Regions from separate parts of the Homo sapiens genome. Here region 1 is linked to region 2. The links come from fine-mapping of genetic effects on gene expression. A gene starts in region 2. The other region holds a variant in brackets. All regions are shown on one strand. Distances are between the middles of the regions. Region 1 has its middle 49 kb from the start of FAM161A. Region 2 holds the start of COMMD1 (copper metabolism domain containing 1).

Region 1 (5,379 bases), 100 kb before region 2:
AATTAGTCACGTTGTGAATTTCTGCATGTATTCATTCAGTCATCCTCCTATGCACCAGGCACTATAGTTGCTACGGGTACAGTAATTCGCAAGATGGTCGTAAGAGGTAGCAGGGACTCCTCTTAGGGGCCTGCCATGCACTTTCTCCAAAGCATGGAAATAAAGGAAAAGTTTTAGTTATTGCAGGGGAAATTCCAGGCACCTAGTTAGCCCTGAGAAGTAAACCAGCAACTTGATTAGCAAGAAGGTAATAGTAGCTTAAAACAATAGCCAAGAAAGTTCGAATTCTGGGATGTTTTGTTCTCTATAGAAACTAAAGATAACTCTTCTCCTCCCTGGCTGTCTGAGGGTAGGCCACCATCATGAACTATCCTAACACATAGGATAGGACACAGTAACTATCCTAACTAGAAAGTTCATGACTACTTCAGAGGAAACAGATGCTCATTGATGTCCTTCATCCCGGGAAGGCAACAGTGCCTAAGACAGAAATTCAGAAAAAACTAGCCAAAATGTATAAGACCACACTGGATGTCATCTTTGTATTTGCATTCAGAACTCATGCTGGTGGTGGCTTTGGCATGATTTATGATTCCTTGGATTATGTAAAGTAAAATGAACCCAAACATACCAAACATAGACTTGCAAGACATGGCCTGTATGAGAAGAAAAAGACCTCAAGAAAGCAACAAAAGGAATGCAAGAACAGAATGGAGAAAGTCAGGGGTACTGCAAAGGCCAGTGTTGGTGCTGGCAAAAAGCCGAAGGAGTAAAGATATTGCAAGGATGTTATCTGCGGCCATTGAGGATTTTTCACAATAAGATTAATAAGGCCGGGCGCAGTGGCTTACGCCTGTAATCCCAGCACTTTGGGAGGCCAAGGCAGGTGGATCACAAGGTCAGGAGTTCAAGATCAGCCTGGCCAACATGGTGAAACCCCACCTCTACTAAAAATATAAAAATTAGCTGGGCATGGTGACACTTGCCTGTAATTCCAACTTCTCAGGAAGCTGAGGCAGGAGAATGGTGTGAACTCGGGACATGGAGGTTGCAGTGAGCTGAGATCGCACCATTGTACTCCAGCCTGGGCACAGAGAAAGACTCTGTCTCGAAAAAATAAATAAATAAATAAAAAGAGGCTGGGCGTGGTGGCTCATGCCTGTAATCTCAATGTTACAGGAAAGGGGTTCCCATCCAGACCCCAAGAGAGTGTTCTTAGATCTTGCCCAAGAAAGAATTCAGGGCAAGTCTACAGTGCAAAGCAAAAGCAAGTTTATTAGGAAAGTAAAGGAATAAAAGAACGGCTACTCCATAGACAGAGGAGCTCCAACGGCTGCTGGTTGCCCATTTTAATGGTTATTTCTTGATAATATTCTAAACAAGGGGTGGATTATTCATGCCTCCCCATTTTAGACCATATAGGGTAACTTCCTGACGTTGCCATGGCATTTGTAAACTGTCATGGCACTGGTGGGAGTGTAGCAGTGAGGACGGCCAGAGGTTACTCTCGTGGCCATCTTGGTTTTGGTGGGTTTTAGCCGACTTCTTTACTGCAACCTGTTTTATCAGCAAGGTCTTTATGACCTGTGTATCTTGTGCTGACCTTGTATCTCATCCTGTGACTTAGAGAATGCCTTAACCGTCTGGGAATACAGCCCAGTAGGTCTCAGCCTAATTTCTCCCAGCTCCTTTTCAAGATGGAGTTGCTCTGGTTTCACACCCCTCTGACACCAGCATGTTGGGAGGTCACGGTGGGTGGATCACCTGAGGTCAGGAGTTTGAGACCAGCCTGGTCAACACGGTGAAACCCCGTCTCTACTAAAAATACAAAATTTAGCCGAGCGTGCTGGTGTGCACCTGTAATCCCAACTACATGGGAGGCTGAGGCAGGAGAATTGTCTGAACCTGGGAGGTGGAGATTGCAGTGAGCCAACATTGCAACACTGCACTCCAGCCTGGGCGAAAGAGTGAGACTCTGCTGAAAGAGAGAAGAAAGAGAGAGAGAGAGAAAGAGAAAGAAAGAAAGAAGGAAAGAAAGAAAGGAAAAGAAAGAAAGAAAAAGAAAGAGAAAGAAAGAAAGAAAGAAAGAAAGAAAGAAAGAAAGAAAGAAAGAAAGAGAAAGAGAAAGAAAGAAGGAAGCAAGGAAGAAGGGAGGGAGGGAGGGAGCGAGAGAAACTAAAGATAACCTCCTAACAGATCCCTGAGTTGTTTTTCAGAAACATGGATGCCCAGCAAATGAATCCACTGGCACCTAGACCTCAGGTTAGGGGGAACTGAGGACTCAACTCTGACTGCCATTTTTTTTTTCTGAAGTTCTTTCTGGGGGGCCTGGAGGAAGTCACGCCCATGAGCCAGAGATAACATTCTTTTCTCCTGACCCCAAATTTTTAGACAAACCTTTTCCATCTTAACCAATTGCAAATCAGAAAATCTTTGAATCTCTGACCTGTAACCTGCCCCATGCCCCACCACCCACTTTGAGATGTCCCGCCTTTTTAGGTCAAACCAGCATATAGCCTCCATGTATTGATTTATGACTTTGCCTGTAACCTCTGCCTCTGCCTTTAAAAACTCTTGCCAAGGTGGATGTATCACCTGAGGTCAGGAGTTCGAGACGAGCCTGGCCAACATGGCAAAACCCCGTGTCTACTAAAAATACAAAATTTAGCCGGGCTTGGTGGCGGGAGCCTGTAATCCCAGCTACTCGGGAGGCTGAGGAAGGAGAATTGCTTGAACCTGGGAGACGGAGATTGCAGTGAGCCAAGATCATGCCACTGCACTCCAGCCTGGGCAGCAGACCAAGACTCCATCTCAAAAACTAAATAAATATAAAAACCCTTACTTGCAAGCCATTGGGGAGGTCAGGTCTTAAGTATGAGGTGCCTGATTCTTCTTGCTTGGTGCCCTGCAAAGATAAATACCGTTCTTCCTCCTATTGCAAACTGCAG[A/C]GTGAATGTTTGGCTTTACCGAGCCAGGTGTGCAGACCCCAGTTCAGTCCTGTACCAGGCACAGGTCCCTGCCCTCATGGAGCTGCAACTGCCAATGATCTGTTGCAGTGCCCAAAACAGACTTACCCAGAGGCAGGTTCTGGGCAATGCAAAAACACCAATCTCATTCTTTTATTGCTAGGTTTTTTTTTTCCTAAGCCAATACTATTAGTTTGGTTACATATCTTATTCACTAGGCTTGTTATCAAATTACTTATGTTACTTTTTAAAAATTAACCTGTTCTCAGCCAGATGTGGTGGCTAACACCTGTAAATCCAGCACTTTGGGAAGCCAAGGCAGGATGATCATTTTAGCTCAGGAATTCAAGACCAGTCTGGGCAACATGGCAAAACTCCATCACTACTAAAAATACAAAAATTAGCCGGGTGTGGTGGCACATGCCTGTAATTCCAGCTATTCAGGAGGCTGAGGCAGGAGAATCGCTTGAATCTAGGAGGTGGAGGATGCAGTGAGCCGAGACTGCACTACTGCACTCAAGCCTGGGCGACAGAGCAAGATCCGTGATCCGTCTCAAAAAAAAAGAAAGAAAGAAATTGCAATCTGGAAGGATGGTTAGAACCATTCTTTTGAGGGCGCCATCGCTACTTAAAAACATGCATGTTGAAGTTCTGTTTAAAAACTCACATTATTTTTTAGTCCCAGGTTAAGAGTGTGGCATTACTTTACAATGAACCGCCTTCAGATGTGGCAGTGATTGCCCTTGCCCCCTATTATTCTGTCGTTGTCATTGTGAGATATTCATTTTAAACACCTAGAGAAGGGAAAATTAATCATGTTTTAAAATCAGATAAAGCATTAATGGTCATGAAATTTTAATACTGATTCTCAGTTTTTAGTTTTCACACAGATGAAACTTTCTTATTTAGAGATAAACCTAGGGAAAGATTTAATGAGTAATTGATATTAAAAAGTTGAAATCACATGTAAGCTCTAATTTTTTCACATGAAAGCAATTTTGCTTTCCACGTCTTTTTTTTTTTTTTTTTTTTTTTTTTTTTTGAGACAGAGTCTGGCTCTGTCGCCCAGGCTGGAGTGCAGTGGCGCCATCTCGGCTCACTGCAAGCTCCGCCTCCGGGGTTCACACCATTCTCCTGCCTCAGCCTCCCGAGTAGCTGGGACTACAGGCACCTGCCACCATGCCCAGCTAATTTTTTCTATTTTTAGTAGAGACGGGGTTTCACCGTGTTAGTCATGATGGTCTTGATCTCCTGACCTCATGATCCACCTGCCTCAGCCTCCCAAAGTGCTGGGATTACAGGCGTGAGCCACCACACCCAGCTCAACATCTTTTTATTTGAAAGAATTGAGCTCACATTTGTCAGATAAATTGCTGCCTAAATTATCTAAGATGATTTTCACATTCTTGTGTGGAAATCAAATTTTGCAAGGTTGTAGAATTAACTTAGAAGAGACAAAGGTGTGTTCTTTCTTTCAGGAGGGCTTGCTAATTGAAGTTGAAGCATCAGATGTCCTGAAAGCACTCAAACTCATCAGGTAACAAAAGCCCAGACAACGGAAATGAAGCAAAGCAAGTTAGTTCTTGAAATGAAACTCTGGAAATCCCAACTTGAGCAAATAAAGAGGCAGAAAAAAAAAAACCTAGAAAAAGAATAAATCACAAAATAAAAGGCACTTAGGAAGGGAATTTTTTGTTTAAGTATTTATTTAGTTTTTTCCATTATAAGCATTGCGTAGATTGTGCTATGCTTTTGAAATTGTAAAAATATGTCTGTTTGTTGTATGTCTCTTCTCTCACTACTTGAAAATGTAAAAAAGAACATTTTCTTGCCTGTATCTTACATGTGCAGGATTACAAGCTCAGATGCTTGCTGGGCCAATCCCAAAATAGGCTCTGCAAAGTGGGGGACTTTGCAGAGCCTATTTTGGGACCCTGAAAGGGTTAGCTGCCTCTGGACTCCAGATTTTTTTTTTTTTTTTTTTTTGTTGAGACAAGGTCTTGCCCTGTCACCCAGGCTGGAGTGCAGTGGCGTGAATCATGGCTCACTGCAACCTCCACCTCCAGGGCTCAAGCATTCCTCCCACCTCAGCCTCCTGAGTAGCTGGGACTACAGGCACACAGCACCACACCTGGCTAATTTTTGTATTTTTGGTAGAGACATGGTCTCACTATGTTGTCCAGGCTGGTCTCAAACTCCAGGCCTCAAATAAACCTCCTGCCTTGGCCTCCCAAAGTTTTGGGATTCCAGATGTGAGCCACTGTGTCCAGCCAGACTCCATTTTTTGCCACACAAAGTGTGGGCCCAGTGCTGCTAGACATTTGGGTATTCCAGAGAACAGTGTCCTGGTCTGGGGTCCCCCAAAAGCTGACCCTGAGACCAGGATTGGGTACAAGGATTTATTTGGGAGGTG
Region 2 (5,361 bases):
GGGAGGCCGAGGCAGGTGGATCACGAGGTCGGGAGTTCGAGACCAGCGTGCCCAAGATGGTGAAACCTTGTCTCTACTAAAAATACAAAAATTAGCCAGGTGTGGTGGCGCACGCCTGTAGTCCCAGCTACTTGGGAGCCTGAGGCAGGAGAATCGTTTGAACCCGGGAGGCGGAGGTTGTGGTGAGCCGAGATCATGCCATTGCACTCCATCCAGCCTGGGCGACAAGAGCGAAACTCCACCTTAAAAAAAAAGAAAAGAAATCACTGAAGTGACAGAAACCCCTATAGAAAATGGACAAGGAAATAGGAAGAAATATAAGCAGCCAATAAATATAGTAAAAAAAATTTACTCTCAAAATTTAAGAAATGCGAATTAAAACAGTGAGATAATATTTTTCATGTATCATATGGCAAAGGTTATAAAGAATAATATAGCTGGGTACGGTAGTGTGTGCTCATATTCCCAGCTACTTAGCCTGAGATCGGAGGATAACTTGGGCCTGGGAGGTCGAGACTGCAGTGAGCCAACATCGTGCCACTGCACTCCAGCCTGGGCAACAGAGTGAGACTCTGTCTCAAAAATTAAATTAAATGAAATTAAAAGAATAATATCAGTCAGTGTTACTAAGGTTTCATAGAAATAGGTGCAGCCTTTCTGGTGGGTAATTTGTAAATTACGTGTTTAATAGTGCTTTTTCTGCTTGCCACCTTTTGATTTATGCTTTTTCTTTTTCACCAACCATTCTCTGCAACTTCTGTAAGTACATGTAAAACAATCTATAGTTTGTCACTAAGTTTGGTTTACTTGGAGCCATGGAAGCAACTCTGAATTTGCCTTTTATAAAATTATTTTAGGAAAAGAAATATATTTTTTCTATTGTAAAAAATGCCTCTGGCCAGGTACAGTGGCTCACACCTGTAATCCCAGCACTTTGGGAGGCTGAGGTGGGTGGATCACCTGAGGTCAGGAGTTTGAGACCAGCCTGGCCAACATGGTGAAACCCCTTCTCTACAAAAAATACAAAAATTAGCTGGGCGTGGTGGCGCATGCCTATAATCCCAGCTACTTGGGAGGCTGAGGCAGGAGAATCACTTGAACTTGGGAGGTGGATGTTGCAGTGAACCGAGATTGTGCCACTGCACTCCAGCCTGGGCAACAGAGTAAAACTTTGTCTCAAAAAAAAAAAAAAGAATACCTCTTTACTGGATAAACATTAATTAAAGTAGTCTAGATGAGTAGATTCTCAACAATGTGGCACTGCCTTGAAAGGGGCATTTCAGTTGTCACTTTTTTTTTTTTTTGAGATGAAGTTTTGCTCTTGTCCCCAAGGCTAGAGTGCAGTGGCACCATCTCTGCTCACTGCAGCCTCTGCTTCCTGAGTTCAAGCAATTCTCCTGCCTCAGCCTCCCGAGTAGCTGGGACTACAGACATGTGCTACCATGCCTGGCTAATTTTTGTATTTTCAGTTTCACCATGTTGGCCAGGCTGGTCTCGATCTCCTGACCTCAGGTGATCCACCCACCTCAGCCTCCCAAAGTGCTGGGGTTACAGGCGTGAGCCACCATGCCCGACCTCAGTTGTCACTTTGAAGGAAGGGTAGGAATGGAATAGGTGGGAGAGAGGTCAGATATATAAGACATCTTCCCATGCAGGGTACGTTCATAAAGGTGAAAAACCTGTTTGTTATTATCTAAGCCTAAAGTCAAACTCTATTTTATATAGAAACACAATGTATTATTATTATTATTTTATTTTTTTGAGACGGAGTCTCCCTCTTTCACCCAGGCGACAGAGTGCAGTGGCGTGATCTCGGCTCACTGCAAGCTCCACCTCCCAGGTTCATGCCATTCTCCTGCCCCAGCCTCCCGAGTAGCTGGGACTACAGGCGCCCGCCACTAGGCCCGGCTAATTTTTTTGTATTTTTAGTAGAGATGGGGTTTCACCGTGTTAGCCAGGATGGTCTTGATCTCCTGACCTCGTGATCCGTCTGCCTCGGCCTTCCAAAGTGCTGGGATTAGAGGCGTGAGCCACCGTGCCCGGCAACACAATGTATTTTTAGTTTAGCATTAATATATACAGAATATTCCAGCTTTGCAATGACTGTAGAGTGAGGAAAGAGTGTTTTTTGTTGTAAACTTTACCAACTGTTGTTCACATTTCAGAACATCAGTTCTTAACATTTCAGAACATCATGTTACCAGAAGCAACTGCCCTCCCTCTGGAGTCACCAATACCACACACCTGTATCAATTTGCATTTGTAGAAGTCACAGGTGGTTCTACATAAAGATGTAAAGATGCAGACATCTGGCTACTTTGTATGTCTTTTAGTCAACTAGTATAGGTGTACCCAAACACACATATTATATTATAAATTCCTTTTCATTTTATGATAAATTACAATTAGGTCATTAAATTGATTTTTCAATTGAGATATTCACATACTGTGAAACTAATCTTTTAAAGTGTACAATTCAGTGGGTTTTAGTATATTAACAAGGTTGTGCTTCCACTTCCGGAATGTTTTCATCATGCCCCAAAGAAACTCTGTACCTATAAACAGTCACTACCCATTCGTCCCCTTCTCCAGATTCTGCCAACTATTACATTACTTTCAGTCTCCATGGATTTGTCTATCCTGGACATTTCATATAAATGGATGTCCAATATTTGGCCTTTTATATCTGGCTTCTTTTACTAATCCTGTTTTTAAGTCTCATTCACGTTGTAGCATGTATCAGTACTTTATTCCATTTTATGGCTGAATAATATATTGATTTTAAAAAATTATATGGGTGGGAAGTTATATTAGCTATGCATTTCATTTCAGGATAGTAAATAAGGTGTTAAAATATTTGTCATATAAAAGAACATTGGATCAGAGCCACTGATCTAGCTGGAAAGACAAGTGTATATAAAAAGGCAATTAACAACCCAAAGAAAAACATTATGTAATCAGGAGATAGTTAAACTTCCTGAAAAAAAGGATGACAGGTAAGGATTAGGCAGAGATTAAATCTGAGTGATCGATCCTATTCAGTTAATGGGTTGGCAAGTCCTGGAATGAGATACAGCCATCTAAAAATTAAACTGCCAAACTTATAGGCTGCTACCCCATCTCCAGTAATCTCTGCGAGCAATCTTTCTTTCCAGTAGGCTCTGCAGTGATGAAGGGGATCAGGGGAAGCAAAGTGACCCTACTGGAACCAAACGGATATTTCCGTGGAGGTATCCTAAGGGGATGGGTGTTGCAGAGCAAAGCTGTAAGCTGCCAACTCTGACCCCTGGGGAAGCCTTGCCTCCAGGTTCCCCGAGGTTCCCCGTGGTGGTTTTGCACAGGCTATTTAGGCACATCTCGGCCGCCGTGGCGGGGCACGGCTCAGCTGTTGCGGGGCGGGGCCTTCGCAGAGCATGGCGGCGGGCGAGCTTGAGGGTGGCAAACCCCTGAGCGGGCTGCTGAATGCGCTGGCCCAGGACACTTTCCACGGGTACCCCGGCATCACAGAGGAGCTGCTACGGAGCCAGCTATATCCAGAGGTGCCACCCGAGGAGTTCCGCCCCTTTCTGGCAAAGATGAGGGGGATTCTTAAGGTACTGCTCTTTTCTGTAGTCTCCGGCTTGGAGCAGAACCCCTTGGCCGCTGGCTTCAGACTCTCCCCCCCTTGCCTTCCCCTGTCCTCACAAGCCGAAAGGCTTTTCCCTCTCAGACCTCCACTCCGTGGGCTCCACATCGGGCTCCTTCAGATTTGCTCGTTCTGTCGCCCCTTCTCTCTTTCCTAAGGGGGACTTTTTCTGCTGAAGTTCCCAGTCCCCCGGTAGACTGACACCCACAGGGGTTTTTCCTTCAAGACATTTCTGTCTCTTGGTAACAGTCGCGTTTCCTCAGCAGATCTGTGGGATCTGGTGTTTTTAAAATTAAGAGTTTTAGGTCGCTAGCTTTCCCCGGTTGTGGAAGTTGGGAGCGTTAAAATGAGCCAGTGTCTGCTGGATAAGGGGTGGCTTAGCCCGAGTGACATCTGTCAAGCAGTCCACTGCGTGGTTAAAAGAGCATAATTACCAGCTTGAAGTCAAAGTATAGACTAGATCGTCCAATAGAAATATGTGAGCCAAAAAGGTGAAATTAATATTTTAGTAATATATCTTATTTAATCCAGAATAGCCAAAGTATTATCACTTCACATGTAATCAATATACAGAATATTGACAAGATTTTTTGTTACTTTTTTCACTAAATCTTCGAAATCCAGTATTTTACACTTAAAGCACATATCTCGGACTTGCCAAATTTAAGTGCTCAGTAGTCACATATGGCTAATAACCATCATATTGGACAACTCTATTTAGACCGAGAACTAGTTATAGGAATGTAGTGTCAATGTACTCTAGAGACAAACTGTAAAAAAATTACTGACTTTTATAGGTCTCCTATGTGTTAGGAACGTACTGAGATGTTTTACATGTTGTTTCATTTGTTTCTTGAAAAAAAAACCTTATATAGTGGACACCCATGGTAAAGATTTAAGAAACAGGTCCAGGGAATCTAAACAGCCTAAAATTCATTTTGATTAAAGTCAGTGTTGAAATTTAATCCACTATCCTTTTGAATTTGCTATTTTTTCAAAGCTGTTTATTCTTTAAAAGGCACTTCTGTATTTTTTTAAACTGATTTTGCCTACAGGATTTGAATCCAGAAAAAAAGCAAATGAAAACAAATATTTCACACAGTAAATGGATTGTCTCATGGAAATGTAAGGAGTAATATCTCAGGTGTGATCCTAGACATTCTAAGTAATCTTAGTTGATATCAGTCATAAATCACTAGTGAATGCTTTCTATTTCTTTTGTTTTTTCTTTTTTTGAGACGAGTTTTGCTTTGTTGCCAGGCTGGAGTGCAGTGGCCCGATCTCGGCTCACTGCAATCTCCACCTCCTGGGGTTCGAGCCATTCTCCTGCCTCAGCCTCCCGAGTAGCTGGGGTTACAGGCATGCGCCACCACACCCAGCTAATTTTTGTATTTTTAGTAGAGACTGGGTTTCACTATGTTGGCCAGGATGGTTTTGATCTCCTGACTTCGTTATCCGCCTGCCTCGGCCTCCCGGAGTGCCAGGATTACAGGCGTGAGCCACCCGGCCCGGCCAAATGCTTCCTATTTCTATCAAATTTTACTCTTTGAGCAGTCCAAGAGAGTTTCCTAGAAAATTTGACATCTGGGTTTTTGAGGTGTTTGGTCTCCTATGGGGATGAGGCCTATATCTCTTCTGCAGGCTAAGAAGAGACAACAGCACATGTGTAGGTAATGCTTTAGAATCTCCAAACATTGGGGGCTACTTCTCCTCTCTAGGTGGACGACATTTTGATT

The links. PIP is the estimated chance that this variant, and not a neighbour inherited with it, causes the effect.
Region 1: its variant is fine-mapped to the expression of COMMD1 in whole blood (INTERVAL, PIP above 0.99).

What each region holds. Positions count from the first base shown.
Region 1 is chr2:61,802,703-61,808,081 of GRCh38, forward strand. It overlaps a transcript of FAM161A not described here and the pseudogene RPS24P7. Among named protein-coding and RNA genes, the nearest start is that of FAM161A, 49 kb to the right of the region's middle. The variant A/C (reference allele first, on the strand shown) is at 2,949.
Region 2 is chr2:61,902,266-61,907,626 of GRCh38, forward strand. It overlaps COMMD1 (copper metabolism domain containing 1), which reads left to right and starts at 3,409. Exons shown (of 3, transcript NM_152516.4): 1 at 3,409-3,593. The coding sequence starts at 3,414. RefSeq lists an enhancer at 3,471-3,660.